2 separate regions of the Homo sapiens genome follow, and region 1 is linked to region 2. Evidence: fine-mapped expression QTL. Tissue or cell type: whole blood. Region 2 holds a variant in brackets; the other region holds the start of a gene. All regions are shown on one strand. Distances are between the middles of the regions.

The links. PIP is the estimated chance that this variant, and not a neighbour inherited with it, causes the effect.
Region 1: it holds the start of ADAM19, and the variant in region 2 is fine-mapped to the expression of ADAM19 in whole blood (INTERVAL, PIP 0.95).

Annotation. Positions count from the first base shown.
Region 1 is chr5:157,573,207-157,578,354 of GRCh38, forward strand. ADAM19 (ADAM metallopeptidase domain 19) reads right to left here and starts at 2,569. Exons shown (of 23, transcript NM_033274.5): 1 at 2,397-2,569. The coding sequence starts at 2,490. It overlaps LOC124901121 (a long non-coding RNA gene), which reads left to right and starts at 1,773. Exons shown (of 2, transcript XR_007059018.1): 1 at 1,773-2,164; 2 at 3,074-3,404. RefSeq lists enhancers at 1,265-1,794, 2,031-2,110, 3,968-4,583, 4,584-5,148 and a silencer at 2,281-2,720.
Region 2 is chr5:157,492,061-157,497,208 of GRCh38, forward strand. It overlaps ADAM19 (ADAM metallopeptidase domain 19), which reads right to left. Exons shown (of 23, transcript NM_033274.5): 14 at 4,834-5,029; 15 at 2,627-2,735; 16 at 913-1,117. Among named protein-coding and RNA genes, the nearest start is that of NIPAL4, 34 kb to the left of the region's middle. RefSeq lists an enhancer at 4,435-4,936. The variant G/A (reference allele first, on the strand shown) is at 2,583.

The DNA.
Region 1 (5,148 bases), 81 kb after region 2:
ATAGTACATGTTAAGAAAAGGTCTCCAAAACTTGGAAATAAGGCAAGAGCAAGCAAGATGTCTTCTCAATGTTGTATCAGAGCATTGTTTAACAGACTCACCCATGGATTACTGCATTATCTAGGGGAATGTACCATTGACTTTTTATTTACCATTGATTAAAAGCTACACTCTGTGAAGTTATATAATCTATATATATCTATAGAATTCTGTCTGACAGAGATGTAAGTGATTTCAGCATAGTAAAAAGATAACCTGGCCAGGCACAATGGCTCACGCCTGTAATCCTAGCACTTTAGGAGGCCGAGGCGGGCGGATCACCTGAGGTCAGGAATTTGAGACTAGCCTGGCCAACATGGTGAAACCCCGTCTCTACTAAAAATACAAAAACTAGCCGGGTGTGGTGGCACATGCCAATAAGCCCAGCTACTCAGGAGGCTGAGGCAGGAGAATAGCTTGAACCCAGGAAGCAGAGACTGCAGTGAGCCCAGATCGTGCCACTGCATGCCAGCCTGGGCAACAGATAGAGACTCTGAAAAAAAAAAAAAGAAAGAAAAGAAGGAATGAAGGAAGGAAATTAAAAAAGAAAGATAACCAAGAATTATGGTTTGCTTCATGGGGCATCCACCATTTCTGCATCTGCCCTGGGCCACATGATTTCAACATTCTTTCTCCAATGCTTGTATCACCCCTTTCTAATGCTCCCTGAATCAGCTTTACTCTCCTGTTTGCTACCTCATTAATGAGTTGAATAAATCTTGGCCACATTTGTATGAGTCGTGTTTTTAACTTTTGAAAACTTTGTATAGAGTCATTAAAATCATGTTTTACAGAGAATTTGATGATGTGGAAAACGCTCATGGTGTGAAGTGAAAAACGCAAGACACGAAACTGTACTTATGGGTATGGTTCCAATTTTATCAATATATATCCATAGGAACACACAAAGAATGTGGAGGGGAAAAAAAACAAAATATCAACAGCAACTGTGGATTTGGGGGTTGCAGATCATTTTCTTTTACACTTTTCGTTATTTCCCAGATATTCTACAGCAAGTGTTCTCCAAGGACTCAAAACTCAGAGAAGGCGCCTGTGCTAGGAGCAGTAACTAGCTTTCCTTGTCTTTCTTCATGCTTTTCTCCTGCACTAAGCACTGACACAGGCCTGGTGCTACCCTAGAACCTCCTCTGTGCCTCAGTTTCCCCTTCGGAACAACAGCTCAAAGGGCGGTTCCTTTGAGCCCTTTGGGAGGACCGCCCGACCTCGGCCCCTGGAAGTTCCGAACTGTCGGAAGAGCTCTCAGCCTCTGGGTTTGAGGCGGCCCGGGGGTCCAGCCAGCCCACCCTCGCTCCGCCGGTGCTCGCTCTATTTGAAAACGCTGACTGTTGGTCCCCCAAGCAGCAGTCTGGAGTCAGCCCAGCCCGTCTGCAGCGGTGGAGCCAGGGCTAAGCCTTCTCCGGTCATAATGAGAGAACCCGGGCACCGCCCCCCGGGACCAAGCCTTCCGCGAAATCTGCTTATAGCCCCCGAGGGATGGAGCCGGGGAGGGGATTGGTGTCTGGGAAACTAGTCCTGAGAAACACGGACATCACCCGGCATCTTAGCTGGAAACATCGAGTCAGACCCCTTCGCTTCACAGAAGGGGAAACTGAGGACCAAAGAAGGCGGCCGTCGGGTTGGCGTGGAAAGAGAGCCCTGGTTTCCAGTGCCACCGCGGACCTCAACCCGTGGCGTGGCCTTGGGCAAGTCCTTTCCCTTTTGTGGGCCTCGGTTTCCCCATCTGTGAAATGGGTGCGTTTGACTTGGCCTTCAGTAGGGCTCCTGCCAGCTCGGGGATCCGAAGTGTGTGGCTGCAGATACCCAGCGAGCCATCCCCTAGCCAAGGCTACCACAGTCTGCCGCGGGCATTTTATGTCCTACCCCACCAGTGTGGCAGGCACCGAGCCTGGTCCCAGGAAGCCGCTCCCAGGCCACACGGGCAGGGCGCTCGGGATGCTCGGCGTTGGCGAGTGCAGCGGGCGGTAGAGAGAAAGACAGAGAGAGAGGCGGAGCGGACACGAGGGACCGTGAGAAAACGGAGGAGGATAAGCCCCGAGAACGGCGGAAAGAGAAGCCAAAAGCAGAAAAACAGAGGAAGGAGAAGGCGAGAAGGGAAGGCTAGCCAGTGAGCGGACCGGCTGTTTTCTGGCTGCGCCGGGTTTCCCCGACCTCTGCCACCTCCCAGGGCGCAGAACGTGGGAACAAAGCCCGGGCTCCCAGGCTGGGGACGGCGGGGGCGCAGGCCCCGCGGAGTTGCGGGAGGCGCAGGGGTCGCGGTCCCAGCGCTCCGGACCCGCAAGGCTACTCCCAGGTCTCCGGGCCACCCAGCCTCCATCCCCCCGCGCCTGGCCACTTACTTGTCCATCCAGGCTCCCGCGCCGCCCGCGGCCGGAGGGGCTGCAGGGCAAACGCCAGCAAGCAGAGCCGGGCGGCGCCTGCGCCCCCTGGCATGGTGGCGGCGGCCCTTAGCGCTCGGCGCTCACACGCCCTCAGCCATACCTGCCCACTGCCCGGCGGTGGAGGCGCGTCTGGAACCCCCCGGCTCGCCCCGCGCCTCCCCACCCGGCTCCCAGCCCTCTGCCGAGACGCTCCGCCTCCAGCCCCGCGGGCCTCCGCCAGGGGATGGAGGAGGGGAGGCTCCAGCCCGGAGGGGGCTGGAGGGAGGGGCCGGGGAGGAGCTGGCGAGACTCGGGGGAGCGGGGCTGGCTCAGGTGAGGGAGACCGCGGGGAAGGGAGAATCCGAGCCCCCCAGGAGGAGGGATTTGTGGTGGACGCGGCCTGTAGAGGGTCGGGGACTCGGGCTTCTAGGAGTTAAACTGGACCCCTCTCCGCACAGCGGCCCGTTTACTGTCCCGCACTGTGCCAGACGCCTTGGGTGACACTCAGAGGTGATTCACCCAGCGCCGTCCCCCGGGGGCCGCCACTCTCGGAGACAGGCTCAGAAAGAGTTAACCCAACCGCCAGGCACAAAGAACTAAGTGCTATATGGACTTCTTTTTTTTTTTTTTTTTTTTTTTTTTTTTTTTTTTTTAAGCAGGACACAAATCCAGGAGCCATTCCTTCTGCCTGGGAGGAGGGAGTGATGAAGACCAGAGGAATCCCAGAGGAGAAGCCATCTGAGATCGGGAGGAGGAGAAATGGAACATCAGGCGGAGGAAACAGCCCAGACAATCGCACTGGGACGTGAAAACCCTTGGGCTGCATGCGGGGAGAAAACCAGAATTGGGGATGGTTAGGGTTTTGGAGGGAAACACAGGGACATGTGACCAAAAATAATAATAACTACTGTTACTTATTGAGGACTTTCTATGTACTAGAATAAGAAAATCATGATAGCTAAGACTGATAAAACGCTAAGTGTCAAACGCTGTCTTCAGCACTTTACACATATTCACTTATTTAATTAATCGGAGAAAATAACTTTTATGAGCCAGGGACTCTGCATACATTATCTCTTTTCATTAGCCCAGTAATCCCATGGGGTAGGTACTAGTACTATCCCTGTTTTAGAAATGAGGAAATCAAACCTGAGAGGCTAAACCACTTGCCCAAGATTACACAGCTAATGTCAGTGCCTAGATTCAAACCCACATCCGTATAACTCCAGAGCCTGATGCAACACACCTTATTTTCCAGGTGGAGAAACTGATAATGAGAGAGAAATGACTTGCCTAAGATCCCTCAGCAAGTTTTAGCAAAGCCTCGTTGTAGAATCCCAGCCTCAAACCTCGTCCATCTGTTCCTTTTTCTGAGCCTCTTTAGTCAAACCCAGGTTGACTAGAGAAGTGCTAAGTGTTGGAGAGGGCGAGGCACTCCTGAAGATGATGGGTAGGTAGGTCTATCAAACCCTACTCATGGGCACCCATGAGGGAAATCAAATAAGTGGTTCTGGCCATTAATGTCGTTTGGGACTCCGTTAGTCTCCAGCTGCTGTAAAATTCGTATCTTTCTGTGAACCCGAAATATCTGAGATAGGTCTCAGTCAATTTAGAAGGTTAATTTTGCCAAGCTTAAGAACGTGCTCATGACACAGCCTCAGGAGGTCCCAACATGTGCCCAGGGTGGTGGGGGTGTAGCCTCCTTTTATATATTTTGGGGAGACATGAGACATCAATCAATATGTGTAGGATGTACATTGCTTCCGGTCCGGTAAGGCAAGACAACTCCAAGCTGCAGAAAGGGTGGTGCTTCCAGGTTATAAGTAGATAAGAAACAGAAGAGGTTACATTCTTTTGAGTCCTTGATCAACCTTCCACTGAATACACAATTTAGTCTAGCTCAGTGAATCTACATTTTTACATAAACAATAGGGCAGAAGAAGCAATCAGATATGCATTTGTTTCCGGTGAGCCTCAGAGGGATGGCTTTAAATTCTGTCTGTCCTTTGTCCACAAGGAATTTCCTTGTGTGAAAATTGTGAGGAAGGTATGTAGCTGTTTCTCTTTGTAGCTATCTTATTTAAGAATAGGATGGTGGCCTGGCATTGTGGCTTAGGCCTGTAATCCCAGCACTTTGGGAGGCCAAGGCGGGCAGATCACCTGAGGTCAGGAATTCGAGACCAGTCTGACCAATGTGGCGAAACCCTGTCTCTACTAAAAATACAAAAAAAATTAGCCAGGCGTGGTGGCACACCTGTAATCCCAGCTACTCAGGAGGCTGAGGCAGGAGATCGCTTAAACCTCGGAAGGGGAGGTTGCAGTGAGCCAAGATCACGCCACTGCACTCCAGCCTGGGCGACAGAGTGAGACTCTATTTCAAAAAAAAAAAAAAAAAGAAGAAAAGAATAAAATGGGGGACAGGTTTGCCTGACATTGTTCCCAGCTTGACTTTTTCCTTGGCTTAGTGATTTGGGAGTCCTAAGATTTATTTTCCTTTCACACTTCTCGCGTGCAGAATATATCCACCCCATCCCAGCAGCCCAAATGTCTTCACTCATTCCAGCATTAATTCCAAGTCTGAAGTGTCATCTAAATTTCATCTGTATTAGATATGGGTGAGACTTGAAGTTTGTTTCATCCTGAGGCAAAATTCCTCTCAGCTTCCAAATACAATGTGGTGGGAAAGGCATAGGATAGACGTGCTGATTCCAAAAGAGAGATACTGAAAAGA
Region 2 (5,148 bases):
GTGGGCGGATCACCAGAGGTCAGGAGTTCAAGACCAGCCTGGCCAACATGGTGAAACTCCATCTCTACGAAAAATACAAAAATTAGCTGGGCCTGGTGGCCTGTGTCTGTAATCCCAGCTACTCGGGAAGCTGAGGCAGGAGAATTGCTTGAGCCTGGGAGACAGAGGTTGCAGTGAGCCGAGATTGTACCACTGCATTCCAGCCTGGGTGACAGAGCAAGACTCCATCTTAAAAGAAAAAAAGTATGAGGGCCCAAATAGGCAGCACACTTCAGGTTACTATCAAAGTGAAAAATGGAAAACAGCCCACAACGCTAAGGACAGGACAACAGCCAACTAAATTCTGCTATTACTTTTGTGATTAGGGAGAAAACGACAAATATATTGTTAAAGTATCATATTTAACAATACAATATTATTTATGTGTTATCACATTAAAGGACTATTATGTTGATTATGTTAATTACTTGTCATTAATATGTATCAATTTTAACATTATATTTAAAAATAATGATGGTGACAGTACTCTGTGCCAGGTGCTATGCTAAATGCTTCATGTTTTCCATAGTTTCATTATCAGAATCGACTCTGGAGGATAGAGTCTGTGCTATTATTTTGCTCAGGCTTCCCTAACTCCTAGTCCATTTTTAATTCCTATGATAATTAGCGATGAGGATGAAAGTGGCACTAGCTAGGCCACCTAAGTGCTTTACTGGGATGATTTTCTTTAATCCTTCCGACAGTTCTCTGGGGTGGGTGCCTGCTGTCACTATACACGCTTCATGAAGGGAGCCACCAAGGCTCAGAGGTTGGCGAGGTGGCATCTGAGCCCAGGCATCCTTCCCTCAGACCTCACTTCTCAATCACTCTGCTCTGCAGCTGGCTCCTAGGTGAGCAGGGGAGGGGACTCACATGGTTGTAGCCACACTTGGTTCCAGTCATCACCAGCCCTGGGTCCAGCATGTCACCCTCCTCCTCAGGACCTCGGTAGACGTGGGTGCCCCGGCACTGGATCTGCCTCCCATTCATGATGATAGTGGTGTCAATGGGCACCGCGTTGGACTCCAGGGGCCGGGCCTCAGAGCTCTGACACTGGATCTTCCCACACTTCGCATCTCTGGGCACAAGAGACAGAGAGGGAAGGAAGCGGAATCAGAGGCAGAGGAAGAGCTGGGGCACCAGAGAGCTTCAGTCTTTCTTGATCAAGACAGCAGGCTTGCGTGGGGTGGGGCAAAGGTTTAGGGCAGTCATGTGCTTTGGAACCCACCAGGAGAGATTCCATGTGGACTGACACCAAGGGAAGAGAACAGGCTCCTTGACCCTGAGCAAATCTAGACCAGAGAACTGGCCTCGAAAAGTCCTTAACTCCAAGAATAGCCACCTGAGCTGAGCAATCTTTCCCTTTTTGCCCCTTATACCGCTGTCCACCCAGGAGTTCCAGCTAGAAATCTGGGGTCATCTCCAACTCCCCATTCTCCCTCACTCCTGGGCTCAAGCCATTTTCAAACCCTATCAATCTTCCCTCCTTAATTATCTATCTTATTATCTATCTACCTTAATTCACACTGCCCCACCCCCCTTACCTGGTCTGCAGAAGATTGATTTCCCTGCCTCCAGTCTGCCTCATAGGAGTCTAATTTTCACACTGCTCTCAAGCTAAAATCTAAACTCCCCTAGCCATGCATTTGAGGCTTTTCATGATCTGGTCCATGCTAAACTATCCAGGCTAATTTCTCAGCAGACCTTCTCCTTTGCACCCCAACATTATACTTTAACTGTATCAAACTGTTCTCAGTTCTTTCAACCACCAGTTTTTCTCTATTCATCTCTCTTCCTGGATTACTCTCCTATGCACCAGCACCACCTTCCACCCTGTTCACCGAGGTAACTGCTCCAGATCTCAGTGTAGGTATAACTTCCTTTGGGAAACCACTCTGACACACTAAGATGGGTTGGATGGCTCTCTCCACATTGCCATTGTCATACTATATTGTTAATTAGAAGTTCCATGCACTCAGCACAATATCTTGCACATGGTAAATCTTCAATAGATAGTAGATAGACAGTAAATCTTCAATAGATAGTAGATGGATAGATGGACGGACAGATGGATGGATGGATGGATGGATGAGTGGGTGAGTGGGTGGTGGAGGATGGATAGATGGATGGATCAGTGGGTGAGTGGGTGGTAGATGGATGGATAGATGGATGGATGGATGGATGGATGGATGGGTAGACAGATGAGTGGATGGTTGGTTGGAATGAATGATGAATAAATGAATGAATGAGTGAATTAATGAATGAGGAGCTATTCAAATTAGGGCATGATTAGAATTTGGCAGAAATGACCCAAAAGGGCTGATTCCCTGCCCTACTGTAAGATGGTCCCCAAAGGAAGCCCGATCAGCTTTCTAGGAAGCACTGCCACCCACACCCTCCTCTGACTTCCTCAGAGCTGAAAAGTGCATTGTCAAACAGGGGGCCGAGAATAGATGACTGACTTCAACTGATTGACGTAAAGGTGCAGCTCTGGGGCCAGTCACACTGCTGAGTTGGGCAACAGTGAGGACAGAGCAGAAACT[G/A]CTTGTTCATCCTCATTTCATGAGGCCTGCCCTTTGGTCATCACCTCATGTTGCACTTCCTGTGTTCACCATTCATGTCCTTTCCACAGTTTCCAAAGGTGTCTCCTGCCACATTCACCTTCTCGAAGCAGAGGTCAGGGGCAGGTCGGGCTCCTGGGTGGGCAAGCAACATCTATCAGTATACTCATCTGTCAGAAGCCCCCAAGGGCAAAGGTATCTTTGGTAAAGTCATGAAGGTAAGAATATTTTCTGGGAGGGAATACTCAGCCTCTTCTTCCTGTTCCCTCCAGGTTACTCCATCCCCATATTCTCAACAAGATCTACTCAGAGAATAATGTTTTATATAAATCCTTTTTTTTTTCTTTCAGATGGATTCTCGCTCTGTCACCCAAGCTGTAATACAGTGGCACAATCACGGCTCATTGCATCCTCCGCCTCTTGGGTTCAAGCAATTCTCTACCTCAGCCTCCCGAGTAGCTGGGATGACAAGCACCCACCACCATGACTGGCTAATTTTTGTATTTATTTATTTATTTTTTTTGTAGAAATGGGGTTTCACCATCTTGGCCAGGCTGGTCTTGAAGTCCTGACCTCATGATCCCCCCGCCTCGGCCTCCCAAAGTGCTGGGATTACAGGCGTGAGCCACCACACCTGGCCTGTTTTATGTAAATTCTTCCTACCTTATTGAGGATTTATATTTGTGTGTGGGGAGGGTTGCATGCTAAGCCTGCTCTCTAATGAAGAAGCCATGTTCCGATTCAAGATTTTAAAAAATAGGTCATACATGCATAATATTTTAAAGATATAAGTATGTCTTGGAAAATTTTTCTTGTAGTCATCCAGTTCCTACTTCTCTACATCCTGGAGGAATAGCACTTATTAACAGTATATTTTCTAAAGATACTTAAATCTCTAATTTCTGTATCTCCTAGGTATAATTCTGTGTGTATCTTCTAGAGATAATCTATCTAATAAAGAATGGAAGCATATTCTTTTTTTATTTTTTTTGAGACAGAGTCTTGCTCTGTCACCCAGGCTGGAATGCAGTGGCACAATCTCAGCTCACTGCAACCTCTGCCTCCCAGTTTCAAGAGATTCTCCTGTCTTAGCCTCTCGAGTAGCTGGAATTACAGGCGTCCACCACCACGCCTGGCTAATTTTTGTATTTTTAGCAGTTACAGGGTTTCACCATGTTGGCCAGGCTGGTCTTGAACTCCTGACCTCAGGTGATCCACCTGCCTTGGCCTCCCAAAGTACTGGGATTACAGGCGTGAGCCACTGTGCCCAGTCTTTTTTTTTTTTTTTTTTTTTTTTTTTGAGATGGTACATCCCTCTGTCGCTTGGGCTGGAGTCCTAGAGTGGAGTGGCTCACTGCAGCCTCAAACTCCTGGGCTCAAGCCATCCCCCCACCTCAGCCTCCTGAGTAGCTAGGATTACAGGTGCAAGCCACCATATCAGCCACCTGAGTAGCTAGGATTACAGGTGCAAGCCACCAAATCTGGCTTGAAAGCATATTTTATTTGCTGTTCTACACCTTGCATTTTTCACTTAATTTTTTGTGGAAGATGATTTTATTCAGTAAATATAGGGCTGCCTCCTTATTTAGCCATAAAGCATTGCATTATATGAATGTACCAGAATTAATTTAATTGGTCCCTACTGAAGGACACATAGGTTGTTGTTGCTATGGCTAACAATGGTGCAGTAAACATCATAGTAAATATATCCTCACATACATGTGCAAGTGTTAGCTGCATTTCTAAGTATATCTCCAAATTGCTTTCCATAGTGGTTATATCTACCTGTTTCTTCACACCCTCCACAACACTATATCATTATTATTGTTGTTATATTATTATTATCTTAACTTTCAGTCTTTGCAATCTGATATATGAAAAATCTCACCTCATCATAATTATACTTTGCTTTCCCTTAATATGACTGAGATTAAACGTCTTTTCATAGCTTAAGGGCCATTTGCATTTGCTTCTCTGTCTCCATCCTCTGCTCATTTTTCTTTTGGATTACTCTTATTCAATTGTCCACTCTGAGAAATAAAAGCATCAAGGGACTGGGAAGGAACACTGTCCTCTGGTTCTCCCTGAACATCTACCCTGAGTCAAGGGGATGAAAGAGGTAGTATCTAGAGGTGCCATTTGAAGCCAAGATTCCAAACTACCCTGAGGGCCAGGGGAGGCTGGCTGGGAAGTGGTGGGCTGGGGAGAGCCGTGCTCCCCAGGAGAGCCTTACCGGGTCCCCACAGCTGCTGGCACTGCTCCTGGTAGGTGAGGCACATGCCGTTGTAGCAGTAGGCCTGGCCGCCCTCACAGGGGGTACCATCCATCTGGTAGAAGTTGGTAGGGCAGTGGGGAGACTTGCCCGTACAGAACTCCGGGAGGTCACACTGCCTGGCCTGCTCGCGGCACAGGGTCCCAGGAGCCAACAGCTGAGCCAAGGAATGAGAGGAAAACACAGTCAATCTCCTCCCCACCCTCAACCCTGTTGCCCAAGGGCTCATAAGGATCACTCTCATAGAACAGAATTTTCCATTACCATGATTTCACA